7 linked regions of the Homo sapiens genome follow. The protein of the gene in region 6 purifies or fractionates together with the protein of the main gene of each other region. This does not show direct contact. Each region holds a gene or a part of one and is shown on either strand. Other genes may lie near its edges. The genes, in order: NIF3L1, RPA1, URI1, ANXA5, POLR2B, RPRD1B and GPN3.

Region 1 (4,221 bases), on a different chromosome or scaffold from region 6:
AATAATAAAACTGTTTAAATACAAGGTAGGTGCTACAGTTGCAGCAGCACAAAGAATGACAAACTAAATGAGCTGTGACTTAGGAGGCTTGGGGAGTACTTGGAGGAAGGACTTAGGTCTTAGAGAAAACCCTAAAAGAGTTAAAAAGGGGGAAATAAAGAGTTTAAAAAGGGGTGATGTCAAGTGCAGTGTGGCAGGACAGAGGTACGATGAGATGGAGAAAGGCATTCTAAACACAGAGGACATGGACAAAGGTGCCAAAAACTTGAGAGAACACACTATGGGGGCAGATCCAAAAGAAGACAGTATGGCTACTGTGCAGAGTACATGCTGTGGAAGGAGAGGAGGCTGGAGGCCCAGGCTGTAGCAGATCATTAAGGGCTTCCAACACCATGCTAAAGAGCCTGGACTGCCTCCTAGGTGCTCGGTGAGACTACTCTCATCGCAGAAAATGAGAGTTTCAACTACTGTGGTGGCAGAGCCAATACAGAGGAGAAACACTGTATAGATATGAGGCCAGACTCAGCAGGGCCTGGAGTCAAGGAGGAATGTGAAAACTTGGAAACTAAAGTAGATAATGATACTGAAATATGAAATATGGAAAAAAAAAAAAGCGGGGGTGGCAAACGGATAAAGTATTTGGATATACTGAATTTGAAATACTTGTGGGCTCTGTAAGTGCAAAACATCCAGAAAGTAGATGAAAATATGGGTTCTTGTCATTTTTTCCCTTAAGAAAGCATTCTAAGCCAAAAAGTAAAGATAGAAATCATCATACAAATGGCTATCAAGTTAAAGAAGTGAATGACATGGTCCAGGCAGAGCGTGTAAAATAAGGAGACAGCAAACCTGTAACCAAATCTGTAACCCTGAAGACGTACCAATATTTTCCTGTTCCTGGAATGTCTCCCTTTCTCAATTACTTCCTAGAGAATATTATGCTCTCATTGCCATTTTGTACTTTAGATAACAGTGAATGGCCTGTTGATCTAATAATTTACAAATGAATTTGCTGAAGAAAAATGCAAAGTAATGATATTCATCAAATTGTACACATCAAATATGTACAATTCTTAGTATATCAATTATACCTCAATAAGGTATACCTCAATATACCTAAGTATATCAATTATACCTCAATTATACTGTTAGAAAATGTGTGCACAGTATTTTAAGATCAAATACAAAATATTCTTATTACCTTCTCCAGTGACAGAATTTCCGTCTTCTGATAAAGTTGTTTGTTCCGGGAAAGAAAATCTACCACCTGCATCAAAGCCTTCTGAGTACAATTCAGATTAATCCGTGTTTGTTCCTCATTACCAGTCCTAGGGGGGAAAAATCACTCCATTTAGGACAAATATAGCCAAAATGTATTTTAGATAATCCACAGTTTACAAACCTACTATAATAGATTAGATTTATGTGGAACCAAGGATTTAACCAACAGAACCCATTTAATCTGAAACTAATCCATTTTCTAGAATAGCATTTCTCTAACTCTACTGGGCATCAGAATCACCTGGAGGATTATTAAAACACAGAGTGCTGGGCCCCACCCCTGGAGTTTCTGATTCATTATATCTAGGTGGGGGTCTGAGAGGTTACCTTTCTAACAAGTTCCAGGTGATGCTGATGTTGCTGGTCCAAGGACCTCACTTTGAAACCACTGTTCAAGAACTGTTCTCAATCCCGATTGTGCATCAGAAATTTCTTGGCCAGGTGCAGTGGCTCACATCTGTAATCTCAGCATTCTGGGAGGCCAAGGTGGGCGGGTCACTTGAGCCCAGGAGTTCAACACCAGCCTGGGCAACATAGCAGGACCCTATCTTATTATTTTTTTAATTATTAAAAAATTAAAGTTAAAAAAAAAAAAAAAAAGAAGGCCAGGCACAGTGGCTCACACCTGTAATCCCAGCATTTTGGGAGGCCAAGGTAGGTGGATTACCTGAGATCAGGAGTTCAAGACCAGCCTGTCCAACATGATGAAACCCCATCTCCACCAAAAATACAAAAAAAATTAGCCGGGCGTGGTGGGGGGCGGGTGCCTGTAGTCCCAGCTACTGGGGAGGCTGAGGCAGGAGAATCACTTGGACCTGGGAGGCGGAGGTTACAGTGAGCCAAGATCACACCACTGCACTCCAACCTGGGCAACAGAGTGAGACTCTGTCTCAAAAAAATAAAAAAAATTCCTTCTAGCTTCTTAAAATAACAGCTGCTGGATCCTTCCACAGAACCAGTGAACAGAACATCTACAAATGGGGCTGGGGCAAAATGAATTTTTTTAAAGCCTTAGAGATGATAATTTTAAAACATCATTGAATTTGAGAATGTCCTGGACAGATTCTCAGGCAAACTCCATTCTAATTATAAGGTCTGAGGTGAATACAAAAATCTGCATTTTTTTTTTTTTTTTTTGAGACAGAGTCTCTCTCTGTCTCCCAGGCTGGAGTGCAGTGGCGCGATCTCGGCTCACTGCAACCTCCGCCTCTCGGGTTCAAGTGATTCTCCTGCCTCAGCCTCCTGAGTAGCTGGGATTACAGGCATGCGCCACTACGCCCAGCTAATTTTGTATTTTTAGTAGAGACGAGGTTTCTCCATGTTAGTCAGGCTGGTCTCAAACTCCTGACCTCAGGTGATCCACCAGCCTTGGCCTCCCAAAGTGCTGGGATTACAGGTGTGAGCCACCGTGCCCAGCCTGGGAGTCTCTTAAAACAAACAAAAAAAGACTATTCAGAAAAATATTTCCCATGATGTTAAATAAAAAGACTGATTTATGAAAATATATATTTAAAATGTAAAGATAAATATAAAAAAGCACTTGGGAATCACTGATTTGCTGGGAACCAATAAAAGCCTTATCACCACATCACTAGGATCTATCTGTATTCTCTAAAGTAAAAACAACTATCTTTGAACATTACCAGGATTAGAAATACTGTAGGTAAAATGCATAGTATAGTCCCCTGACATAGAAAATACTTAGTGTTACTTACCGTTTTTATTGTTTTGAAAAAATTCCATAGTTCTCCAGGACCCACAAACAAATGAGGAGTATGCTACTTTGTAAATCAACTCCAGAGAAAACTATTTGTTTCAAGCCTAAATACCAGGGTTATAGACTTTGTAAGGAAGATGCTTACCAATAAATACACACAAAAAAAAGAGAAAAATAAATTGTACCTAGCAGAAAAAGAAGTGACAGAAACACCGTCAATTCCTTTCACTGCAGACATGACTTTGTCCAGGTCTTGGGTGTAGTTAACGTTGAATTCTACTCGGTGGTTTCCCTCTGTAGGGTAGTTGGGAGCTTTGGAAGGATGTATGGGCCTGGAGGTACAAGCTCCTAGAGAAAATATTGTGGGAAAATGGGAGTTTTGGGGGGTGAGAGATTAAGATTTAAAAGTAAACTATTATAGGCAAAATTTCTAAGAAATGACTTTTTAAAAAGATTCATTCTCATGCTTACATAACATACACACATCCCTTAGATATACATCACCAGTCCCCATAATCTAGGGCTTTGGCATGGACATACAAAATCAAATTATTTTCAGAATTATTTTCCAAAAGATTCTTAAATCTCTGAAAAACTTGGACAAGAAAGACTGATTCATACATTTTCAGATAATACACAGAATGGTCTACTGCTTGGTAAATCTAGCCATGTAAACCATCATTCAGGTTGCAAATGCTCATACTTTATTTGACCACATTAATCCAGATATCATCATAAAAGCTTTAGCCCAAAATGAGTAAACTAAAGACTTACTAAAATAAAGCTAAAATCCATCCATCATTCCCTCATTGTGCTAGGCATAAGTAAACATTCACTAAAAACATTCATTAAAACCCTGATGTCTATTTACTTGACTTATCAATCAAGTGTATTCTGGAGAGGCCTGAGCTTTCAATTCAACAAGCATTTTCCAAGTGCCTGGGTGACAGGCATTGTGCCACAAAAGTGAGGAATCATGAAGCTCAGTCCAGTAAGGAAGACTTCTGCTCTCCTTACTCCATAAGAATAAAAAATGTTTCCTTTTTCAAATGCAATTTAACTGCCAAATTTCAGCAACATTATTTTAAAATTATTATATAAAAATGGAATCATGCCCTCCCCAACCCTAAAGCAGTTAAAACTTTACTGGAAAGACATCCTAAAGTTTCAAAGTATTTGCAGGGAAAATATCAAATATGAAAGAGGCTTCTCACCAAGCCCTT
Region 2 (4,221 bases), on a different chromosome or scaffold from region 6:
AAAAGGATAGATATTATTTGATTCCATTTATATGAAGTCTTAGGAAAGGCAAAACTAACCTACAAAGGTAGAAACCAGAACACTGGTTGCCTAGGGTGAGGATGGAGGTGGGGAAGGAGCAAGAGGAGTTGTGCGTTGATGGAAGTATTCTATATCTCCACAGGGGCAATGTGGTTACAGGGGTGCGCACATTTGTCAAAGTTCATCAAGCTGTACATTTAAAATACGTGCAATTTGGCCGGGCATGGTGGCTTATGCCTGTAATCCCAGCACTTTGGAAGGCCAAGGCAGGAGGAGCATCTGAGGTCAGGAGTTCGAGACCAGCCTGGCCAACATAGTGAAACCCCATCACTATTAAAAATACAAAAATTAGCCAGGTGGTGGCGTGCACCTGTAACCCCAATTACTAAGGAGACTGAGGCATGAGAACTGCTTGAACCTGGGAGGCAGAGGTTGCAGTGAGCTGAGATCACGCCACTGCACTCCAGGGTGACAGGAGGAAACTCTGCCTCAAATAAATAAATAAATAAATAAAAAAGGTGCAATTTACTATACGTAAGCAAAATGTCAATGACAGTGATTTTTCTAAAAAGCAGTTATTCTGGGGAACAGTACTGGACAAGGTAAGGCAGGAGGTCAGTAATTACATTAAACACCTCTTTCTTTCTTCTTTCTAAATGAAATAGAGACAGGATCTTGCTATGTTGCCCAGCCTGGTATCAAACTCTTTCTTGGCCTCAAGGGATCCTCCTGCATTAGCCTCCCCAAGTGCTGAGAGTACACATGTGAGCCACCATGCCCGGCCATGAACACCTTTCTGTTCCGTTTGATTTTAAAACCACGTGCATGTATGAGGGGGATTCAAAAAGTACACGAAAAATGTGCATTATGAAAAAACTATGCATGCATTTCAAAAATTTTTTTTGCACTAAAATAAACTCATACTAACTTGTTATAACATGTCTGAACAAGACCTAGTTTGAGGTACTAAGAAGGATAAGACATCAGTTTGAAAAGAGCCCCTATCAGAGCAACATGAATTCTGCTAAAATGGAAACAACAACAAACAACAAATTCAAGGGGAAGGTTGGGTGGAAGAAGGATGAGATCACTTATGAAAGAAAAGTATATGGGGACGATGCTCCAAAGAAATCAGCTGTTTACAAATGTAACTCATTTTAAGGGACAAGGCCAGGCACAGTGGCTCATGCCTATAATCCCAAAGACTTGGGAGGCAAGGCAGGAGAACTGTTTGGAGACCAAGAGTTAGAGACCAGCTTAGGCAAGATGGCGAAACCCCATCTCTACACAAAATTAAAAAAAAAAAAAATTAGCTGGGCATGGTGGCATGCACCTGTACTCCCAGCTACTGGAGAGGTTGAGGTGGAAGGATCACTTGAGCCCAGGAGTTGGAGGTTGCAGTGAGCTATGATCATGCCACTGCACTCCAGCCTGAGAGACAAAGAACAAGACTCTGTCATTTAAAAAAAATTACGGCCAGGTGCAATGGCTCAAGTCTGTAATCCCAGGACTTGGGGAAGCCGAGGCGGCAGATCACTTGAGGCCAGGGGTTCAAGACCAGCCTGGACAACATGACGAAACCTCATCTCTACTAAAAATACAAAAATTAGCTGGGCGTGGTGGCGCACGTCTGTAATCGAGAGACAGAGGCAAAAGAATCACTTGAACCTGGGAGGTGAAGGTTGCAGTGAGCTGAGATTGTGCTTCTGCACCCCAGCCTGGGCAACAGAGTGAGACCCTTTAAAAAAAAAATCCCTAGTAAGTATATAAAGCAACAAATGTAATACTCAAGGGCACATGTGTTCAAATCTTCACCCCATGGACACATTATTCAACCTCTCTGTACTTCCTTCCTCTGTAAAATGGGAGTATAATAGCTATCTTCTAGGGTTACTTAAGTACTGACTACTAAAGCATCTGTCACATTAGAAATAGTCAAAAACATTAGTTCCCTTCCCCTTTCGTTATATAATTAAGATACAAATGCTATGTATTCTGTTGACCACAAGAGTTCTATGCATCATCTCTTATTTTATCATGTGACTCTTGCCCAAACGCCTTCACATGTGTGTGGTATTTGCGTACCCTTTGTGGCCTGTGTCTTTTGAACGAAAATGATACCTGCTTTAGCTGATAATGAAAGTCAGCAAAGGTTCTCCAACTCATTCCATCACCACAAACACATGTGAAACTTTCATTCTTCATTTATGAACAAAATACTTCACCTACGCTGGAAATAGGTTTATAAAATTTTGAATATAAAAACATGGCCAGGTGCAGTGGCTCACATCTATAATCACAGCACTTTGGGAAGCTGAGGCGAGAGGATCGCTTAAGCCCAGGAGTTTGAGACTAGCATGGGCAACAGAGTGAGACCCCATCTCTAAAAAATAAAAAAACTTATCAAATTATTTAAATATCTCCATGATCATTCTTTATTTTTTTTTGAGACAGTCTCACTCTGTCGCCCAGTCTGGAATGCACTGGTGCAATCTCGGCTCACTGCAACCTCTGCCTCACGGGTTCAAGCAATTATCCTGCCTCAGGCTCTCAAGCAGCAGGGATTACAGGCACACGCCAACACACCCAGCTAATTTTGTATTTTTAGTAGACCAGGGTTTCCCCATGTTGGCCAGGCTGATCTCGAACTCCTGACCTCAAGTGATCCACCTGCCTTGGCCTCCTAAAGTGCTTAGATTACAGGCATGAGCCACTGCGCCTGGCCCATGATCAGTCTTTTTAAAAGTGAAGAACCATTCTTTTCTTTTTTTCTTTTGAGATGGAGTTTTGCTCTTGTTGCTGGAGTGCAATGGTGCGATCTTGGCTTACCGGAACCTCTATCTCCCGGGTTCAAGAGATTCTCCTGCCTCAGCCTCCCAAGTAGCTGGGATTCCAGGCATGCGCCCCCACACCTGGCTAATTTTGTATTTCTAATAGAGACAGAGTTTCTCCATGTTGGCCAAGCTGGTCTCAAACTCCCAATCTCAGGTGATCTGCCTGCCTTGGCTTCCCAAAATGCTGGGATTACAGGCGTGAGCCACTGCGCCTGGCCTAGAAACATTCTTAATTTGTCTTAAAGACACAAGGTAGCAGCTATAAAGTAAATGAAAGCTACAATTTAAAATCACTTCCCCGGTTTCAGCATTCACACATTCCTAATTTATTTAAATATTCACTTGAGTCCAACAATAGTTCTTCCTGTTCCTGTTTTTCCCCCAAGCTGCCTTTCTTCCCCATTCACCTGTCCCTTTCTTCCCACTGCCTCATTCATTCATGCAACTAGCAAGCATTTATTCAGCACCTAAAACTTGCCAGCACTTCTCCAGGTATTGGGGATACAATGCAGAGTAAAATAACCCAGACATGATTGCAGGCCTCATGGAATTTACACAAAGTATTAGGCCAGGCACAGTGGCTCAAGCCTGTGATCCCAGCATACTGGGAGGCCAAGGTGGGTGGATCTCGAGGCCAGGAGTTCAAGACCAGCCTGGCCTACATGGCGAAACCCTGTCTCTACTAAAAATACAAAAATTAGCAGGGTGTGGTGGTGGGCACCTGTAATCCCAGCTTCTAGGGAGGCTAAGACAGGAGAATCGCTTGAACCCGGGAGGCAGAGGTTGCAGTGAGCCGAGAATGTGCCACTGCACTCCAGCATGGGCAACAGAGCAAGACTCTGTCTCAAAACAAACAAACAAACAAACACAATAATTTTAAAATTTTAAAAAGAAACTGATAAATCAACAAACATAAAACTGCAATTATTAATAGGTAACATAAACACTGAGCATTTACTATGTATCAGTGTGCTAAGCACTTTAAATTTAATAACTCACTCCATCCTCCTACTTACCTTATGCAATAGATATCATTGCTCTCATTTTACAGAAAAGAAACAGTTTAGTATCTTGCCTCAAGTCATGCATCTAATAAGTGAATGGGGTCGTGCGCGGTGGCTCACGCCTGTAATCCCAGCACTCTGGGAGGCCGAAGCAGGTGGATTGCTTGAGGTCAGGAGTTCGAGACCAGCCTGGCCAACATGGTGAAACCCCATCTCTACTAAAAATACAAAAATTAGCCGGGCATCATGGCAGTCTCCTGTATTCTCAGCTACCTGGGAGGCTGAGGGAGGAGAATTGCTTGAACCCAGGAGGCGGAGGTTGCAGTGAGTCAAGATCGTGCCACTGCACTCCAGCCTGGGCA
Region 3 (4,221 bases), on a different chromosome or scaffold from region 6:
GCTGGGCTTGCCTCTCTTTCTGCCACTGAACCTTTACTGGAGAAAGTTGACTGTAACACAGAAGACCCTCACTGAAAAGTGAAGTGTTCTGAGGAGTTAACTTAGGATCTGATAGGCTGACCGGCTGTAGCTTCCCAGTCCAGAGCAGTGGGAATGGAGGATTTTTTTTTTTTTTCACTTTCTCCTCTTCACCAGTGCTTTTGAAACATTTCCAAATGGTCTAGTCAGAAAATCTTGTATCTTCAGAAAGCATTTTTGTTTCCAGTGGGCTAGGTCCCTACGTTTCTACCACAGCCGTAACATGCTTGGCATGCAGTTTACCTTTTCAGAGTAGAAATTATACTGTTGCAGGTTTTTTTTTTTTTTCCTTTTTTTTGGAATTGTTTGTTGAGAAAACTATCACTTGAAAATACCTACTGTTTTTATGACCCTTATTTATAAATCAGTGAAAATTGCTAAATGTATACGTGGGTCTAAAACTTTATGTAGAATTTTGGCAAACCATGCTATTGCCACCTAGGACATGCTTAAAAATAACATGCTGTGTTTTTGTTCTCACTCATAGGTGGGAATTGAACAATGAGAACACTTGGACACAGGGTGGGGAACACCACACACCGGGGTCTGTCATGGGGTGGGGGGAGGGGGGAAGGATAGCATTAGGAGATACACCTAATGTAAATGATGAGTTAATGGGTGCAGCACACCAACATGGCACATGTATACATATGTAACAAACCTGCACGTTGTGCACATGTACCCTAGAACTTAAAGTATAATAAAATAAATAAATAACATGCTGTGTTTTATTATTAGGCCAGAGAAATAGCTTTCAAAATAGTATGAAGATACCATTTGAGGCTATAAAATTATTGTGATTGTGACTATTTTAGATATAAGATTGTAATAAAAATTTTCAGATTAATTTCTAGAATAGATTCAAGGAAATTTTCAAAAAGTTGTTCTCAGTTTTATGAGTTACGTATAGTGAATGCATATGTGTTTTGAATATCACAGAGCCTTTGTTGATGTTGTGAATGGAGAATATGTCCCTCGCAAATCCATCCTGAAGTCTCGAAGTAGAGAGAATAGTGTGTGTAGCGACACTAGTGAAAGCAGTGCTGCTGAATTTGATGATAGGCGGGGAGTTTTGAGGAGTATCAGCTGCGAAGAAGCCACTTGCAGTGACACCAGTGAGAGCATTTTGGAAGAGGAACCACAAGAAAATCAAAAGAAACTTTTGCCCTTATCAGTAACACCTGAGGTGTGTGTGTGTATCTTTTAATTCTTTATTTCATATAGTATCTTTGACCAGTTTTAGCTATTTAATCTGAAAAGTCATAAGATTAAATTAATTCTAGGTTTTATACTTTCTTGGTACTAATTAATAAAAAATTAATAGTCACAAACAGTACAAATATTGTGATAATCAAATAGTTTATTTTTTGATAAACACATTACTTGTCTTAACGTTCTATTTCAGCAAAATGGGAAATTTAAAATGTCTTACTTGGCATTATGTATTACATTTGTAGCTAGGAAATTATTTCGCAGTTTATTTTAAATAAATTACCAGTAGGTCATTTTCTGATAGTGTAAGGAGCAGATTACATTATTCTCTTTTAAATACCTTGGCTAAGTTAAAGAAAAATAATGCATGCATAGCAGATAATTACCTAAAGTCTAATATTTTACCTTGTACCAGTGAAACTTAACTCTTGGGGGATTATGGAATTGTTTTATAATCTGATGAAAGCTGTAGACCCTGTCCATAGAAAAAATAGTGCACACTCAATACACTTTCACCCACCACACTTCTTACAGTTTTTGGTGGTGGTGCAGGGGAGGTTAGGAAATCCCCAAATAAGGATGTCTGTGAAATATAAGGCTATTGATTTCTTCATTCTTGTGTTTTGGTGCGTATTTGAAGTTTTCAATTTAAAAAGTATTTAGGAAGATTGGGGAACCCATGCCTGGATCAAACCAGTGTACACATTTGTATATACAATAAGATACATGCATATATATAACCTTATCTAAAAATTCCATTGCTTTTACTAAATGGTATTATACTCAGTGTATTAAATGGTAATTGGGGATGGAGATTGGTAGCATTTAGGGACAGTACATATGACTAGAATGTTTTCTTCCCCTCTTCTTAGTATAATGATCTTAGGTGACCTGGAAAGTATCTTACCTTATTTGATAGTCTTCCATACTGTTAGAAAACAGGTAATGGATGTTATCAGGTAATTGCTGATAAATGTTTGAAAATTAGTTTTTTGTAAGGACTTAGTGTATCATGGTACAGCTAGAGTGTGGAACCTATTTTTTATTTCACCCTTAGTAGCTTTGCATTTTGTATGGAAATGTTTAATAGTAGTTGCTATACATTTTTTAACATCAAAGAAATAGTTCATGATTATGGTAAGTACTTTGGAAGATATCCTTTTCAGTATCTTTTTAAATGCTAAAATACCTCTTTTTCAAAGGCATTTTAAATAGAAGAAGGAGAAGAAGGCTCTATGCTCATCGTGATAAAGTGGAGTTTTTAGGAAAGTAAGCTTTAAGCTGCTTTTACCAGTTGAACTCCAAAAATAATGTAGGAGAGAGATGGCTTTCTTTGTTTTTGTTTCAGTGGTGGGGCAAGGTAGAAGAAGGTGGCTTTTTAAATTATTTAGGTGTTACGTTGTTTTAACTAATTTTGAGCACTTGGTAGACAGAGGAGAACAAAATGTACATTAAAGTTCACCTGTCAAATTTTCATTTGTAGAGGGAAGGATGGAGGTTCTAAATACCAGCAATCTTAAAAAAAAAAAAAAAATTAACTCCTTGTGTCTTACCTATTTTTGTATAAAACGACATGTACAGATATTTCCAGCAATTTATGCACATTCTTTAATTCTGTTCCAGTTGAACATATAGTTGACCAGATTAAATGCAGCAAACATCCAGGTGAAATTGAGTCATTTCTTTTTTTGTGGAACTTCTGATTTCTGTCATTGAGTTAATTATATTAAAATTTTGAAACCTGTACTTATTCCTACTAGTATCAGCACTTTTATTTTTCAACTTCCACTGATCTTTTAAAATTGAGGCAATATGCAGTAAAATATTTAAATAATTGCATAAACACCACCAAAGAGATATCAGTTAGAAATGTCAGTACTGGTGAAACTAAGCTATTGGCTAGCAGGCAGCAAGGCCATCATAGGATAGCTCATTCATCAACTGATGTACAAAAGTCAGAGTTTGACACCCTAATAGCATTTTTATTTTAATACATTATTTTTCACAGCATGGGCTGGACATGAATGGAATGTATGAAAGTTTGAAGACCTTTTATTTATCCATTTCTTTTTTTTCCCAGATAAAATTTACATTTTACATTTTGTTTTCTTGCATGTATACTGTAAAAATTACTTCTGTTTGGTGGTGAAATTAAAACTTAATGGTGTTGGTTTCTCTGAACAATTAGTATTTTGGTGTAGTAGTGTTGTCTAGCCAAAAATCTCGTGAATTTACTTTTAATGAAAAGAATTGCCAAATGAGTGAATGGGAAGATTTTGTGGGTGTCTTATTTGCATTTTATTACCATAACCTGACTTTTGTTTTCTAGGCTTTTTCTGGAACTGTTATAGAAAAAGAATTTGTATCACCTTCCTTAACACCACCCCCAGCCATTGCTCATCCCGCACTACCCACTATTCCAGAACGAAAGGAAGTTCTGTTGGAAGCATCTGAAGAAACTGGAAAGAGGGTTTCAAAGTTTAAAGCTGCCAGATTGCAACAGAAAGACTAGGCCCTGTCTAGGAAATGGGAATTTACATCCTAAAACCTAGTTGTTCATTTGTTTAGAGTATCTATAGCAAAATAGGTTACATGTAGTTTGAAATAAGGTATCCTGAGTTACTTTGGCAACAAGTTCTTTTACCCTTACCCGTGGTATTTGAAAAAAATCAAGGTAACTGTCTGAATACTTTAATATCAGCTTGTTTTGTGAATTCTCTGAATACTGTCAACACTCTTATCTAAGTTTGCCTTTATGATGCAGTGGCAGCATTTTGAATTACTTTTCAAAGAATACTGTTCATATGCATTGTTTTTGTGTTTCAAACTAAATACAGGCAGTTTTGTGCCAGCTGTGATATTGTGCATACCATATGGACCATTTTAAAGAAAATTTTAAAATTTCAAATAGATTCAACAATTACATTACTT
Region 4 (4,221 bases), on a different chromosome or scaffold from region 6:
GTGTGACTATGAGAGGAACAATCTAGAGAACTGACCTCCCTTGCCATCCTCCAATAGTGAAGGGTGGACTCAGGATCTCTAGTTTGTAAAAGCTACAACAGCAGCAAAAACAATGTTGAGATTTCTCCAGGTCACCAAAAGGAAGAAATACAAAAACTGATTCATTCTCTAAGTCCCTGCTATGTAGCAGGTATTCTGTCACACTGGCTCATGCACTTTCCAAATTTACCAATGTATCTGCCCCATACAGATTTTTTTCACTCACCCTTTCTCAAATGAGACACACTTCGTGTTCCAAAGATGGTGATAAACTTTTCTTCATCTGTCCCCCATTTAAGTTCTCCAGCCTGAAATAAAGCCTGCAAAAATTTCAAACTCAATTAATAAATTGTTCCTCCATCTCATTTCCAGGTTCTTAAACACACTTGTTTTTTACTCCCTGAATTTTAACTCACTTGATTCATCATCTTGTATTAATAGTTTTCATTTCTAATGTGTCCTACTCTGAAACTCAGCTCACTGAGTTTGGAGCACCTTTGGAGCTTGCCACTGAACTGTGCCACAGAAGATTCATGGGTCCAAGCAACAAAGCACGGCAATGGTGCAAGGTTACATGTTCCCAAAATGTCTGCCATAACCTCCAATCTTTCAGAAGCAACAGTATGGGTCAGGAGAAAGTTATGACTACCTCACTGTTGATACATCCATGTATAGACTGGGAAAGGATTTAACTGGAAGCTAAGTTGTCTGCCTTTTCTGTTTTGCTTGTTCTATAGCTGTTCAATAGCACATGAGTAAAAGTACACTTCATATTTTCTCTTTACAACTGAGATTTAACCAAGGCTAGCTATAAAATGTTTTCATATTTCCAAAGATCACAATAAATTTTTAAAAGATTGTGGGTATAGCACAGTGCCTGGCATATAGAAGCACTCAATAAGTAGTGGTTGAATAGTTTGAGTGCCCATACTTCCTTTTTGACATGGGGAAAAAATATGCTTTCTTGTGCACGTATAGCTGCCTAAAAAAATAAGCTTATATACAAACATCAACGTTAACTCTGAATCCACTTATTGACGTGAGAATAATTTATTAAAACCCAAAGAATCAACCTTTACAATGACTGTACTATCCTTTTATTCATTTCAAACTAAGTCTACATATTAAAGCAAGATGAATGCAATTTGCTGAGGCTGCTACTTGCAGTTGGCCTTATACCCACAAGCAGCAATCCAAATAAAGACAGGAAGTGATAATAACAGGCTTGAATATAGAAGTTTTGATCACAGTATATTTAAAAATGTAGATTATGGTGGTAAAGATCTATTTTTTATTATATTTCTGGAGAATAAGAAAAAAATGAGACTCATGTATCTTTATGCTCAATTTTAAAATTAATTATTTTAAAGATAAAAATGAATAATATCAATTCTGGCCATGTGAACATGCTCTTAAAACCTGAAAAGACAGTAACTCTGAAAGTCATGCATGCATCTAAACTTTAGAACTATATCATGATGACACAGACCTTTCTTAAAATAACTTTTAAAATTTAATTACAAAAACAACGCAAGTTCATTGAGAAATTTTATAAAACTAAGAAAGAACAAAAATAAGAAAATAGAAGTTGCAGGCTAGGCATAGTGGCTCATGCCTGTAATCCCAGCATTTTGGGACGCTGAGGCAGGTGGATCGCTTGAGCCCAGGAGTTCAAGACCAGCCTGGGCAACCTGTCAAAACCTGTCTCTACTAAAAATACAAAACTTATCCAGGCACGGTGGCAGATGCCTGTAATCCCAGCTACCCGGGAGGCTGTGGCAAGAGAATTGTTTGAACCCAGGAGGCAGAGGTTGCAGTGAGCCTAGATCATGGCACTGCACTCCAGCCTGGGCACGAAGGAAAGGAAAGGGGAAGAGGGAGGGGAGGGGAGGGGAGGGAGAGGGGCGGAAAGGAGAAGGGAGGGGAGGGAGAGGGGAGGGGAGGGAGAGGGGATAGGAAGGAGAAGGGAGGGGAAGGAAAGGGGAGGGTAAGGAAATGGGAGGGGAAGGAAAGGTGAAGGAAAGAAAAGGAAAAAGGAGAAAGGGGAAAGAGAAAGGAAAGAAAAGAAAAGTTGCTATTTAATATCAATTTCCTGAGGGTGCTAGTTACTACTTCTGGTATGTTTCTACATGTAGATAAAATATACAAATACATTAACACCTAAATGGGTAAAGGACTCATCTTGTACAATATCACAGACATTGATGCACACACTTCTTATCAACTGTTTTAAATGTCTAGAAATGTTCTCTAGTAGGTACAGGAGTTAAGCCTGTTATATGGGAATAATTGGTGAGATGTCAGTTATTTTTACCACAATGTTTTAATTTTCTTGGGAGAATTATGTTTGGGATCAATATCTACTGTAAAACTATTATTAAGTAATCATATGCAATAATAATGATGGCTTCTTCATGTAAAACAATGATATTTAACAGTTTTGTTTTAATCTAAGTATCCTTTCTCCTAAATGAGGATGCCCAATATTCATGGATCCATCTGGATGAGGGACCCTTACACCCCTTCCCTAAGCTTTACGGTTCAGCCTGAGTACAGTTTCATAAGCCCTGGTTCAGTGCAAAGGATGAGTCTTTGGAGTCAAAACAGATGTGGTCTATCTGCAAGATCTCAGATGAACTACTTAATCTCCTCTTCAGCCTCAGTGTATATAGTCATTAACGGAGATTATATAACTAAGATAATGCACTGAACAGTGTCAGGTAATCAGTAGCAAATGCCCAGTAAAAGTAAAAAGTGCCTGATTACTTCTCCTTCTCCCTCTTTCCTCTAAGAGTTCAACTCTCCCTCCAGAGAAAGAATAAAACAAGGATTTACTGGGGAAGAAGGTAAATCTGTTTTAATGCATTAAAAGTATTAAATCAATTTAACACATTAAAAATGTTAAAAAGTGGATTATCTACAAAACGTTCAGTTCCCAAGTGAATGACTCACTATGGCTTATCAAACCTCTCAAATAATAGAAATCTTCTTAGTGCCAGGTATCAGTAGAGACAAAAATGCAAAAGCTTATAAAAGAGCCCTTTAGCTGTCTCAGCTTACTCTCAATTAAGAAATCTCAAATTCTCACTAGTGATAACAGTCCAGCTGCCCTTGCTACGAGGTACAAGTTGGTGTGTTCCTTTTTATAATGCCAAAAGATTATTTGTTTTCAACAGGTTTATTAATTAATAATAATACATTTGAAAGAATCAAAAATAATAGCCAGTGTAACATGTTCTGTATTGCTCCTAGTCACTGGAAGGCTAAGAAAAGCTTGGATTCCATTCAAGGGATACTTTAAAGTAACTCCATAAAGCAGTTTTCACATGTACAGTCTCACATGTACTCTCAGGGTTCTGAATGGTTATATCCACTGCATGACACGTAAGTGTCACCTATACAGCCTCAGTAATCAAAGGACCAAGAATGCAGGCATTACCTGAGAGCATGTTCAAAATCCAGACTCCCAGCCCCTGCCCAGACCCATAGAATCAGAATCTGCAATTAAAGGTCCCAGGTGCGCCACATGCCCATGAAAGTTTGAGCAGCAGTGCTATCCAGTAAGTGCTCCAAGGACAGAAATCAATGAAAACAAGGTTAAAATGTACTGTTTTCCCCTCAGGAGCCTCGTGCTGCAGCAATGCTCTCATTACATCACCAACTATGCTGGGAAATCTGCCCTCTGCCTGTGAATGCAGGCCTCACTGCAGACATCTGAGAGGACTAGAGTTGGTTTCTTACACTGTGACCCTGAAAAGCTCCCAGAACTCCTATCCTACTCTTGACAGTAGGAATGAGAGAATCAGCACTATCTCCTAGCAAAGCCACAACCAATGCTTGGAAAGCAGTAAGATCACCTCAGTACTGAACAAAGCCCCTAACAGGAGTACAACTCTGTAGGGTTGCTCTAGCCCTCTTCCCGAAAGAAGGTGGAATTAAGCTAGATCTATGCTTGAGTTGATATTTAATAAGCCCTTTAATGATAGAGAAAATCAGGGAAGGCACTAATACTCAAGAACACTGAATATCTTACAGTGAAATATTCTTATAGTGAAATATTAATATTCAATAACACTGACTATCTTCTAGTGAAAGAGAAAGAGCTTTGGAGTCAGACAGGCCTCGTTAGGAATTCCAACTCCACTGCTATTCAGTGGAAGCCATGGGTTTGTTTCTTTATCC
Region 5 (4,221 bases), on a different chromosome or scaffold from region 6:
TTCAACAATCGGGTTCCATCTTATCTTCCTAATGCCTATTAAAAATAGAGAAGCCCTGTAATCCCAGCACTTTGGGAGGCCAAGGAGGGCAGATCATGAGGTCAGGAGATCGAGACCATCCTGGCTAATACGGCAAAACCCTGTCTCTACTAAAAATACAAAAAAATAATAGCCGGGCGTGGTGGCAGGCGCCTGTAGTCCCAGCAACTCAAAAAGCTGAGGCAGGAGAATGGCGTGAACCCGGAAGGCGGAGCCTGCAGTGAGCCGAGATCGCGCCACTGCATTCCAGCCTGGCCAACAGGGCGAGACTCTGTCTCAAAAAAAAAAAAAAAAATAGATAAGCCAAAATCACATACTGATCATTGTGGTCCCCAGCCTAAATACACCAAGTATTTTCTTTTCTTTTTTTTTTTTTTTTTTTTTTTTTTTTGAGACAGAGTCTCGACCTCTCGCCCAGGCTGGAGTGCAGTGGCGTGATCTCAGCTCGCTGCAACCTCCGTCTCCCACGTTCAAGCAATTCTCCTGTCTCAGCCTCCCTAGTAGCTGGGACTACAGGTGCCTGGCACCACACCCGGCTAATTTTTGTACTTTACTAGTAGAGACGGGGTTTCACCATATTGGCCAGGCTGGTCTCAAACTCTTGAGCTCAGGTGATCTGCCCGCCTCGGCCTCCCAAAGTGCTAAAATTATAGGCATGAGCCATCGCACCGGCCACACCAAATATTTCCTTGCTGAAATGACTAAGCACCTTTTCTCTTCTAAGAGAGTTCTTCATAGTAAATTTAAGTCTCTTCCATCTTTTCTACTAAGCTCTGATAACTAGGTGTTAGAGATCTACTCCTCTTTTAGTACTTCTGTTACTGGCACGTTCAATTTGCTATGTTATATTGTTATCTGGCTTGTTATACAAAGACCATGAAGAAAAAATGACCCAACAAGCCAGGTGCAGTGGCTCATGCCTATAATCTCAGCACTCTGGGAGGCTGAAGCAGGTGGATCACTTGAGGTCAGGAGTTGGAGATCGGCCTGGCCAACATGTGAAACACCATCTCTACTAAAAATACAAAAAAATTAGCCAAGCATGGTGGTGGGCACCTATAGACCCTGTAAAAAAGAAAAAAATGACCCAAGAATAAAAAAGAAACTTAATGTCCCCCTTTCCAGCACAGCCCTAGAAGAGCCAATCACTTTCATTCTTAACAGCAAAATTCTGTACAGCATGTCCAACTAAAATGGAAATAACAGACCAGCACTTAGGAGATAAGCTACACAGAAGAGAAACTGATCAGGCTAGAAACAATGAACTCTCCCTGTGTCTAGCTCTATTTTGGGGGCTTTCCCTACCTCACTTTGTTTCTCAGTTTTCCCTGTCTCTCAAAGTCCAATATGTTCCAACAGCTGCCTCTCAACTTCTCTAAAACTGGGACAGTCATTATTTTGGACTACATCCTTCTTATAATCACTCATGTAAAACCAAATTATAAAATTATACCCTTAGTATGATTTTAACAATGCTAAAAAACCTGCATATATGTGAGCAAAAGCTACAAGAAACTTAGTAAAGATAGCTGCTATGTTTGGGTGATTTTCCTTTCTTATCTCATATGGTTATAATAATGTACTTCATGCAATATATAAAATCAGATGAAAATTCCTTCAAACATTTTTTATTATTTTTACACTGTGAGAGAAAAAAGCGGGGTTATCTATCTAAAGCAATGTGACCATCTCTGGCTCACTTCTCTTATTTGTTCATATTTCAGAGTCCTCTCTTCCCAGCTATTCAATACCTACTATGTGAATAAGGATGGGATAACTTGCAAAAAAACACACCTCTTCATTAGAGAAAATAAATCAGAAAGTGATTGACGGTGCTGTAAGTACTTTGCTAAAAGCTCCAACTGACTTTTTTTAACCTTTAAGCCAGGTAAGAGAAGGGCTAAAATTTCAAACCAATACGCTTCTTGTACCTGTGTAACTATTAGAACTATCTTACCGGTTCTTCAACTTCTCCACTAGCATGCTGAGCTTCAGCCTGTAGGTCTATAGGAGGAGCGTCTTCCACAATTCTTTGAACAGACATCTGAATAAACTCATCAAAAGAATCCAGCTGTTGTCTAACCAAGCCTTTCTCGTCAAAATAGGAACTGGGAAAATATTTGAGTTCAGTCAGTTGCAACTCAGTGATAATTTCTAGCATAATTCCCCATTTTCATTATTTCCCCATTTTCATTATTCAAGAAACAGTCATAAAATACCAACCATTATATGTCAACCACTAAACAAGACACTATGAGGTATCTTAAAAAGGATGAAACCGGGCATATTTTCTTTGTAGAACTTATTATTTGGGGAAAAGCAGCTTATATTTGGGGGTAAAATACTTAAAGCACAATATAAGAACTATAAGGATCCCAGCTCCTGGGAGGCCAAGGCAGGAGGATTGCTTGAGTTCAGCCTGGGCAACGCAATGAGACCTCATTTCAACAAATAAGAAAAAAATTAGCCAGGCATGGTGGCATGTGCCTATAGTCCCACATATTCAAGAGGATGAGGTAGGGGGATCACTTGAGCCCAGGAGTTTGAGGCTGCATTGAGTCATGATTGCATCATTGCACTCCAGCCTAGGAGACAGCGAAACCCTATCTCAAAGAAAAAAAAAAACTTTATGCCCTTTATGGACAAATTTTATTCCACCTCTTTGAAGTACTTCTTGACAAATATGTCAGGAGAGAAAACTAAAGAAAAGTCAAAGATAACAATAAGAACTTTCATTTGAATAGGACGGAGGGTAGTGATATTAATGACTAAAATAATGCATGAGAATGCCAACTTTAGGTTATAGATCATTAGTTCTATTTTGAATTCTTAAAGGTAGGATAAGAAGAATAAGTCTTTACATAAAAATACTCAGCAAAAGACTGGTGATAAAAATGCAGCATGGCTGAGAGAGCTGCAATCTAAAAAGCAGACATCATATTTATAAGGAACAGATACTTTTCAGGTGAGGGGTGGGGAAAGACATACAGAGACAAGTAGATACACGTGCAAGAGGATCTCAACAGATCACTCCCTATTACCATCCAGGGACAGCTGCAAAGCTGGGCATCACAGAGGCTGGAGGATGTAGCACAACCCTCAAGATTATCCCATCACCCTTCAGCAGTAGGAAGTGCCCCACCACACCTCCACGTCTCCACTCCTATATCTTGTGACCTCTGTCATCTTATATCTGTGAGACCTTCTTAGCTTCTACTCCCCAACTACTGACTCCCCCATCTTCACATCAATTTTCTAAGACAATATGCAGAGTCCAACTAATCATCAGCCTCCCATTTTGGCTTCATCAGGTCACCTCGCACATCAGTGACAGGCCAACAAATTGGCCCCACCCTGATCCAGTCAAGTATGGCCACCAAAATTAGAAGTTAGGTCCTATGGTAGAAAACACAGCAGACAATCACACATGTGTAAGGTATGACCTAAATAACAGTTGGGGCAATTTATTTCAGTAGAGACTGTCACATAATGGGAAAGAAATTTCTCACAACCATGTGGATTAGCCATTGATATTGTAAGAAAAACATGGCATTGCCTGTAATATACATAGCCATGGTTTTTTATAGGCAATTTAAGATGAATAGCTTCTAAACTATAGATAAGTTTCATTACCCCAGGAAGCTGAACTATAGCTACTTTACCCAAAATCATTAGAATGGTGCTTAAACACCTAAACTATATAAATATTTCATATTTATGATCTCTACTCTGTTTATTTTACCTGAAGTCATCTTATGAAGTTACTTGTGATATTAACTAATATCACATTCACAAGATCACTTGATATTAAAAAGTAAAAAAAAATCAAAATTCATTTCTCAATAGCCAAAGTATCTACAGTCAATTTAAACTTAAAAATCAAATAATTTATTTTGTAACAAATGATAAATGCTATGACAGTTCACAATAGAGTATTTTATCCTTGAGCAATCTACCACATATGTTGAAAACAACTTCTTTTCACCTAAGATAAAATATTTTTTCTACCGGGAGAATGTAGAATATAGGCACACTCCACAGAACATCTACCTGGTTATTGTTTCCTAATAAAATATCTCTTGGTGTTTAACACCCAAACATCACAGAAGATGTAACTGTCTCAGTAAAGTTTAGTCTTCTACAGCCAATTTGTTTTATTTTTTGTGTTTACAAAAGTTTACT
Region 6 (4,221 bases):
TCACTGCCATGACTATGACTACATGATGAGCCCTGTGAGTCATTCTAGGGAATCACCAAACCTGGGAGTGGTCTTGGGGCCCACAACAATAAGTAAATATCATGTGGGTAACTCTCAAATTTATGTCTCCAGAAATCAAGTCTCTACTGAGCTTCAGACTATTTTATCCACCTGCCTATTTGGCATCACTCCTTGGAATATTCACTAGCCACCTCACACTCGGCCTGGCCAAAACAAAACTCGTGATTTCCTCCACCAAATCTTTTCCCCAATCTTCACTTCAGTAAAGGGCACCATCAGTCATTCCTTACATCAAAAACCTAGAAATCGTCTTTGATTTCTCTTTTCACTTACTACCAGCTCCCACTCAACGCCTATAAATCCTATCAGTTTTACACTGGAGAGGTGGGGATCCTCCCACGAAGGAAGCACTCAATAAATGGAAGCTATTAGTATCTTCCCATTGCTTCTGAGTCCTAGGCAATGTCACCTCTAGCCTGCATCACAGCAATATCCTCCAAACTCATGTCCCCGCCCCTCCCTTGGCCTTTACAATCCATCCCTCTACACTAAGCCATTTTTAAAGAGGGATGTTTTAAAAATGTATGTTGGAATATATTGGAATATATCATTCCCCTGGTTAAAACTCTTCAATGACATCCCATGAGAAAAAAATCCTAACTTCCAAGACTTACAGGGTGTATGTGACTGCTGCATGTCCACCTCTCGGACCTCATCTGGATATCACTTTTCCCTTTGTGCACTATATTCTAACCACACCAGCCTTCATTCTGTTTCTCTTAGAAGGCCAAGATGATCTCTGCCTTAAGTTTTTCTTAATAGCTGCTCCCGCTTCGCATGATTACCGCAAATGTCATTTCCTTAGAGGCCTTCCTGAACCACACTACCTGTGAGATCCTACTCTAGAACATCACTCCATTTTACTATGTCCATATTGTCCTGCTCTGAAAGTATCTTGCTCATTTAATTGTCTTTGCCTGCCTTGTTCACTGCTGCTCCCCCCGTGTCTGGATCCATACTTGGCACATAGAAGGCACTCCAATACATGTTGAATGAAAAATGACATGGACAGCTGTCTCCTCACTGGGAAGAAAACAAGGCACTTGTATGAAAAGCAAGTTTGCAGTCTGGTTAATTAAACTGCTATTCAAATCAAATCTATCCTATGAACTTGGCAGCTTTCTCTGACTTGAGAGTTTTTTTTACTGTTTGTTTGTTTTGGGTGTGGAGGTGTCTTTTATCATAAAAATATCCCTCATCAATTTAGTCAACAGTAATGGGTCAACTATCTTTGTTCATCAACTGACCACAGAAAAAGCACACAGAAAGTATATGTTAATTAGGCTACTCCTACTGTGGACGAGCTGCATCACGGTTGAAGCAGAACTGTTGGACTTTCTGTCCCAATAATGGGGTATAAGAAAGGAGATTGGAAACATGGGTATCCTGAATGTAATACCCAAGCAGAATCTTAAAAGAACCAGAATGCAAACAGAAAGGAATTCGGGCTATTTTATTGAGAAGGACCAGGTTTATCTTCCTCACACTGCCACTGAATCTGCCAAGACACCTAAAACCTGGCTAGTTTTTAAGGTGTTCCCAAGAAAAAAGGAATTTTTAACCCTGGTGTTGCCCACCCCCTTTTCCACCCCTTTCTATTTACTTTTTGGTTTCAGGACAGCTAAAGATTACAGATCGTTTGTCTGTTTGTAATTTAGAGACAGGGTCATGCTCTGTTGCTAAACCTGGAGTGCAGTGGTATGATTATAGCTCACTACAGCTTTGAACTCCTGGGCTCAAGCAATCCCCCTGCCTCAGCCTCCCAAGTAGCTAGGACTACAGGTGCACACCACCATGCCTGGCTAATTTTTAAAAAATTTTTTGTAGACACAGGGTCTCACTATGCTGCCCAGGCTGGAATTTTTTAATAACACTGTTATGTTTACTATCCCTACAAGAAATCATTCCAGCCAACTCCCTAGACCAAATCTCTTCCATAATGAGTTAACATTAATTAACTCATTTAACAAATATTTACTGAACGCCTACTGTGTCAGGGCAGACCATAATGTTGCCCAGCTCCTGGGACACCACTTACATGGAGGCTATATAAATGGTATTCCTTCAAGCTACATAACTCAGCAGCTCTGTGCCAGACACTTTACTAGGTGCCTGGAATATAGGAAAAAACAAATGATCCAATGAATGAGCAAATGTGGAACAGGCATTGTACTACATACTTTTAAACATATTGTCTGTCTTTACCCTCACAACTCTTATGAGGGGGAGTGGTATCCTCCCCCTTTAGCCAGTTAGGAAATTTGGGCTCAAAAAGTTAAGTAACACATCCAAGGTCACTCACATAGTGTCTGAGGCAGAGCTACCATCAATTTCTAAGCAACTGTGAACTAAATCTCATCAAAGCAAGAAAATCTGTCTATTTCAGATAGCTCCTCTAGTAGTCTGTTCTAAGCTTACTCTGTTATGAAGATTCAGTATTTTTTTCAAGTTAATAACACATTTTGCTACTTGCGCCCATGTTGATCAAAAGGTGAGCCAGTTATGTAACTTATCCACAAAAACCATCTTTTTCATCTCTAGAAAGCTAGGTGTCATTTCTTTCTCTTGGATTTCTAATTTTATTCCTTCAAACTTTTCAAATCCTGCAATGAAAGCAGGACTTCATTTCTCATTTAAGGCCTTTCACTATATTTTAGACCTAGTAACAATTTATGTTTAACCTACTAGTCTCCCATTCATGTTTCCCAATTCCTTTTGCAAATATCTGTTTATATATTTACTTATAAACATAATATTCTAATGAACGATAGTTTTTCTTTGCTTTTCCTGGGCACCTAATTTAAGCCCACAGAAAGCTTTTGTTTTTACATGAAGTAAAGTAATTTATAAAACTTTTAATCCAATGTATGCTTTCTATGGTATTAGTTGTATGAGTGCCACTCCTCTCTGCCACAAAACACAACAGCACCAGGCTTAATACAATATAGCCAGAGCAAACACCTACTTTCTACACTAATAATTACTATTATTGCAGTTACAGTAATGCCTACTATTTTTAGTAAACTAGACATCTAGAAATCCAGAAGGAAATAAAAAGGAAGGCATTTGGCAATTAATTTCTTGCTATTAAGTTATGTTACTAAAAGGTTCCCTTACTAGTTAGCTTTGTTTTTTGATCATAAGCTGATGAGACAACTCAACCAAACCAAGGAAAATACCATAACCAAGAAATAAATTCAAAAAATGAAAATGAATATATCTAGAAGAAAGATAATGCTAGGCTGAATCTCTCAAATGTATCAGAATGTTTACATGTCTCGATAGTTCTTGAGGGCTCAACAAAACATAAAACCACAATTCGGCCTCCACAACTCTCTGTAAAGTAGGAAGTTGTCAATTTACAAAGGCTATCACAGAAAAGGAAAGAACAAAAAGGTGGGAAAGGCAATGAATTTAAAAACAAATCCAAAAAACAGACAACATACCTGGCAACATGAGAAAAAGCATCCACAAGGACAGATTCAAATTCTCTAGTGAATTCAGGTCCTTTCCTTTTACTGTTTTGGATGACATCATTCGCTAAATACAGAAAAGTAAGCTTTCTATTTGATTTGGCTGAAAAAAAGAAAAGAAAAGAATTTAACTTACACCAAAGAAATTCTCAATTCACAATTCTTTTGCCCTGGGCTGCTCCTAAAAAAACATTAAGACAAGTATTATCTACCTGGGGGGTCAAGTAGATATGTTTAAAAAGACCACCTAAGGAATAGGTTTGGGAATACCATTTCGGAAAAAAAAAAAAGAAAAAGAAAAAGAATGGGCCATCTTCATTGCTGTGTTGTTTAAACCAGGGTAATTAATTGATAGTAAAAATTAAGATAATCCAAAGAGAATTCCTAAAGGATAAGCAGTCAGTGTTAATGTTGAAACTAGGGCTTTTATTTATTCTACTGCAAAAATGAGCAACTTCTAACTCACTTTTAATTATCAAATATTTCAGAATGAAAGACTGAGTTGGCCGGACGCAGTGGCTCATGCCTGTAATCTCAGCACTCTGGGAGGACGAGGTGGGTGGATCATTTGAGGTCAGGAGTTTGAGACCAGCCTGGCCAACATGGTGAAACCCTACCTCTACTAAAGATACAAAAATTAGCCGGGTGTGATGGTGGGCACCTGTAG
Region 7 (4,221 bases), on a different chromosome or scaffold from region 6:
ACAAAAATTAGCCAGGCGTGGTGGTGCGCGCCTGTGGGATGCTGAGGCACAAGAATTGCTTAAACCCGGGAGGAGGAGGCTGCAGTGAGCCAAGATCACGCCACTGCACTCCAGCCTGGGCGACAGAGTAAGACTCTGTCTTTAAAAATAAAAAAAAAGAAAGAAAGAAAGAAAATGAGGTTCTTCACACTTTAGTTTTCTGCCAATCAATATGAGTGTTATTGGCCAGATGCCATGGTTCACACACCTGTAATCCCAGCACTTTGGGAGGCTAAGGTGGGAGGATAGCTTGAGCCCAGGACTTTGAGAGCAGCCTGAGCAATATAGTGAGATCCTATCTCTACAAAAATAAATAAATAAGTGCTACAAAGATATCTATAGTTTGGGAATATTCATCAAGCTGTATACTTATGACATATATACTTTTCTGTGGGTATATGTATGGTCAATTAAAAGCAAGGGGAAAAAAGTGAGGGCCATAAATGGTCAAAGCCAGGTTAGGCTCAAGTTGAAAATTCACAATTTGGGCTGGAGGTGGTGGCTCACACCAGTAATCCCAGCATTTGGGAGGCCGAGGCAGGTGAATCACCTAAGGTCCAGAGTTTGAGACCAGCCTGGCCAACACAGTGAAACCCTGTCTCTACTAAAAATACAAAAATAGCCGGGTGTGGTGGTGGGTGCCTGTAATCCCAGCTACTTGGGAGACTGAGACAGGAGAATCACTTGAACCCAGGAAGTGGAGACTGGAGTGAGCCGAGATGGCGCCATCATACTCCAGCCTGGGTGACAGGAATGAAACTCAGTCTCAAAAAAAAGAAAAAAAAAAAAGAAAATTCACGATTTGGCTTCAGAAGCCATGATGTGCTATTATCTGTCTCCTACCAGTCACACCTCATGACAATTGCCTCTTTGTTTATTATGCTCCAGCCACACTGGCCTTTTCAGTGCCTTAAAACAGCTTTGTTCCTTCCTCCTGGGAGGTGTTCAGCAGGCTGTGCCCTCTGCCTTCCTCACCCTCAGCCTCCAGCCCAGCTGAAAGGCCGCCTCAGATGCCTCTCTAACCGCCATTATCTGTGTGATGATCTGTGCTACTCCTGTGGAATACTCAATGACAACTGAATATTAAATAATCATTTGGATGCTTTTTGTTTGTACTGTCTCGAGTTCTGCCAAATGTGAGCTCCATGAGGCCAGAGACCATGGCCATCTGTGCTCTATGGTATTCCCAGTGTACAAAGCAAGCACTTAATAGATATACTTTTTTTTGTTTTTTTTTTTTGTTTTTGAGACAGAGTCTCATTCTGTTGCCCAGGCTGGAGTGTAGTGGTACAATCTTGGCTCACTGCAAGCTCCACCTCCCAGGTTCATGCCATTCTCTTGCCTCAGCCTCCCGAGCAGCTGGGACTACAGGCGCCCGCCACCATGCCTGGCTAATTTTTTGTATTTTTAGTAGAGACAGGGTTTCACCATGTTAGCCAGGATGGTCTCGATCTCCTGACCTCGTGATCCACCTGCCTCGGCCTCCCAAAGTGATGGGATTACAGGCGTGAGCCACTGCGCCCGGCCTCAACAGATATACTTAGTAAGTGACAGCCATTGAATAAGCTTGGTACTTTACTGCAGTATAGTTTAGAGCTACAAATACTCACTCTCCTTTCTCCTACTAAGGATGGAACTATCAAGACTTTAAGGAAGACAATGCATTCAAATTGTTGATTCACCTGGACAATCAAAAAGGATATAGTCGTCCTCTACATGGCCAAGACAGTTCTCCAGCCAGTCAAAATTATTGGCAAAGTACTCCATGCAAAATACCAATCCTCCGTTGGGACCGAATCGCAGAGAATCATCCTCCATTACATCATCCACCTCGATCAGTTCCCGGATGTCTGAAAAGGACAGATAGGGCCCAGAATATATGTGTCCCTTCAAAAATTGTTATCCTTACTAGAAATAGAACATAAAAGTTAATAATTACATAAAAAACCCATATGCAGGAAATTATTTATGTACATGGCTTTTCCCTGTAGCAGTGTCCATCAATAGAGAACTGAGCAAATAAATTATTGTACAGCCCGACAATGGAATACTACACAGCCATAAATGGGGAAAATCTCTTTAAGTATTAATAATAATACAATCTCCTAGGTATATTGTTCAGTGAAAAATGCAAGGTGCAGAACTGTGTAAGAATGCTATCATTGGTGTTAATAAAAGACAAAAATTCACTACATAGACATAATACATATACATCTTGAATTTTATGTGCACAGGCTATGAAAGAACACACCAGAAACTGGTAACACTGGCTGCTGCCAGGGAGGGGAGCTGATTGCTGGGATGCAGAGCTGAGAGGAAGATGTTTTCCTGTATACTTACTCTTTAGTACTTTTACATTATGAACCATGTGAATATGTATTACCTATTCCAAAAAAGTACAAAACCAAAAAAAGAAAACAGATTACCATTTCTTAACACAATGACACTAAGGAAACTATTTCACCTCCTTGAGCCTCACTTTCCTTATCCTGGGTTAGAAGGATGAGAACTATGAGATAATATATCAAAATCACCATCAGGGGCTGGGTGCGGTGACTCCTGCCTGTAATCCCAGCACTTTGGATGAGGCAGGCGGATCACTTGAGGTCAGGAGTTCAAGACTAGCCTGGCCAACATGCTGAAACCTGTCTCTACTAAAAATATAGAAATTAGGCTGGGCATGGTGGCTCATGCCTGTAATCCCAGCACTTTGGGAGGCCGAGGTGGGGGGATCATGAGATCAGGAGTTCGAGACCAGCCTGGCGAACATGGTGAAGCCCCATCTCTACTAAAAATACAAAAATTAGCAGGCATGGCGGCGCACGCCTGTAGTTCTAGCCACTCCGGAGGCTGAGGCAGGAGAATCACTTGAACCCAGCAGGCAGAGGTTGCAGTGAGCCAAGATCACGCCACTGCTCTCAAGCCCAGGCGACAGAGCAAGACTCCATCTCACTTTCCAACTTGGACCCAGCAGAATGGCTCCTGCAAAGAAGGGTGGCGAGAAGAAAAAGGGCCATTCTGCCATCAACGAAGTGGTAACCCGAGAATACACCATCAACATTCACAAGCACATCTATGGAGTGGGCTTCAAGAAGCGTGCCCCTCAGGCACTCAAAGAGATTCAGAAATTTGCCATGAAGGAGATGGGAACTCCAGATGTGCGCATTGATACCAGGCTCAACAAAGCTGTCTGGGCCAAAGGAATAAGGAATGTCCCATACTGAATCCGTGTGCAGCTGTCCAGAAAACGTAATGAGGATGAAGATTCACCAAATAAGCCATATACTTTGGTTACCTATGTACCTGTCACCACTTTCAAAAATCTACAGACAATGTCGATGAGAACTAATCACTGATCGTCAAATACATCAAATAAAGTTATAAAATTGAAAAAAAAAAAGACTCCATCTCAAACAAAAACAAACAAAAATAGAAAAATTAGTCAGGTGTGCTGGCATGTGCCTGTAATCCCAGCTGCTCGGGAGGCTGAGGCAGGAGAATCACTTGAACCCAGGAGGCAGAGGATGTAGTGAGATGACATGGTACCACTGCACTCCAGCCTGGGTGGCAGAGAGAGACTGTCTCAGGAAAAAAAAAATCACCAACAGGAGAGGCTTAAAAAATTCTGGTATGGTTATCTTACTAATTTTGGGGAATCAGTATATAGAATCTTCTACCTTAGGTTTTTACTTATTTTTGTGCTCAAACCTACATTCTCCATTCACAAAGGACTGAGCTTCATTCACAGTCACATTTATACTGACAACACCTTCCTACCCCCTCCCTCAGCAATCAATAACAGATAACTGATCCAAATTGGGACAATCAATCTGGCTTTCTTTCTTTTTAGACAGGGTCTCACTCTGCTGCCCAGGCTGGAGTGCAGTGGCATAATCATGGCTCACTGCAACCTTGACCTCGTAGGCTCAAGTGATCCTCCCACCTCAGCCTCCTGAGTGGCTGGGAATAAAGGCACCCGCCAGCATGCCAGGCTAATCTTTGTATTGACTTGTAGAGATGGGGTTTCACCATGCTTCCCAGGCTGGTCTTGAACTCCTGGGTTCAGGCCATCCATCTGCTTTGGCCTCCCAAAGTACTGGGATTACAGGTGTCAGTCATAGCGCCCATCCTAAGTCCTCTTTTTAACTAAGCTAGCTTAGAGTGGTTTCTGTTTGCTGCAGC

Evidence for each region.
Region 1: the proteins of RPRD1B (region 6) and NIF3L1 fractionate together in Homo sapiens (co-fractionation; one large-scale study listed by BioGRID). This does not show direct contact.
Region 2: the proteins of RPRD1B (region 6) and RPA1 purify together in Homo sapiens (affinity purification with mass spectrometry; 2 studies listed by BioGRID, with this or other methods). This does not show direct contact.
Region 3: the proteins of RPRD1B (region 6) and URI1 purify together in Homo sapiens (affinity purification with mass spectrometry; 3 studies listed by BioGRID and IntAct, with this or other methods). This does not show direct contact.
Region 4: the proteins of RPRD1B (region 6) and ANXA5 purify together in Homo sapiens (affinity purification with mass spectrometry; one large-scale study listed by BioGRID and IntAct). This does not show direct contact.
Region 5: the proteins of RPRD1B (region 6) and POLR2B purify together in Homo sapiens (affinity purification with mass spectrometry; 6 studies listed by BioGRID and IntAct, with this or other methods). This does not show direct contact.
Region 7: the proteins of RPRD1B (region 6) and GPN3 purify together in Homo sapiens (affinity purification with mass spectrometry; 3 studies listed by BioGRID and IntAct, with this or other methods). This does not show direct contact.

Annotation. Positions count from the first base shown.
Region 1 is NC_000002.12:200,892,371-200,896,591, reverse strand, and holds part of NIF3L1 (NIF3-like protein 1), read right to left. Parts: coding exon 4,213-4,221; intron 3,347-4,212; coding exon 3,184-3,346; intron 1,329-3,183; coding exon 1,202-1,328; intron 1-1,201. UniProt on the Homo sapiens protein: May function as a transcriptional corepressor through its interaction with COPS2, negatively regulating the expression of genes involved in neuronal differentiation.
Region 2 is NC_000017.11:1,832,425-1,836,645, reverse strand, and holds part of RPA1 (replication protein A 70 kDa DNA-binding subunit), read right to left. Parts: intron 1-4,221. UniProt on the Homo sapiens protein: As part of the heterotrimeric replication protein A complex (RPA/RP-A), binds and stabilizes single-stranded DNA intermediates that form during DNA replication or upon DNA stress.
Region 3 is NC_000019.10:30,011,268-30,015,488, forward strand, and holds part of URI1 (unconventional prefoldin RPB5 interactor 1), read left to right. Parts: intron 1-1,017; coding exon 1,018-1,264; intron 1,265-3,619; coding exon 3,620-3,802; 3' UTR 3,803-4,221. UniProt on the Homo sapiens protein: Involved in gene transcription regulation. Acts as a transcriptional repressor in concert with the corepressor UXT to regulate androgen receptor (AR) transcription.
Region 4 is NC_000004.12:121,672,268-121,676,488, forward strand, and holds part of ANXA5 (annexin A5), read right to left. Parts: intron 360-4,221; coding exon 266-359; intron 1-265. UniProt on the Homo sapiens protein: This protein is an anticoagulant protein that acts as an indirect inhibitor of the thromboplastin-specific complex, which is involved in the blood coagulation cascade.
Region 5 is NC_000004.12:56,988,674-56,992,894, reverse strand, and holds part of POLR2B (DNA-directed RNA polymerase II subunit RPB2), read right to left. Parts: intron 2,148-4,221; coding exon 1,997-2,147; intron 1-1,996. UniProt on the Homo sapiens protein: Catalytic core component of RNA polymerase II (Pol II), a DNA-dependent RNA polymerase which synthesizes mRNA precursors and many functional non-coding RNAs using the four ribonucleoside triphosphates as substrates.
Region 6 is NC_000020.11:38,039,871-38,044,091, reverse strand, and holds part of RPRD1B (regulation of nuclear pre-mRNA domain-containing protein 1B), read right to left. Parts: intron 3,658-4,221; coding exon 3,528-3,657; intron 1-3,527. UniProt on the Homo sapiens protein: Interacts with phosphorylated C-terminal heptapeptide repeat domain (CTD) of the largest RNA polymerase II subunit POLR2A, and participates in dephosphorylation of the CTD by RPAP2. Transcriptional regulator which enhances expression of CCND1.
Region 7 is NC_000012.12:110,457,974-110,462,194, forward strand, and holds part of GPN3 (GPN-loop GTPase 3), read right to left. Parts: intron 1,890-4,221; coding exon 1,722-1,889; intron 1-1,721. UniProt on the Homo sapiens protein: Small GTPase required for proper localization of RNA polymerase II (RNAPII). May act at an RNAP assembly step prior to nuclear import.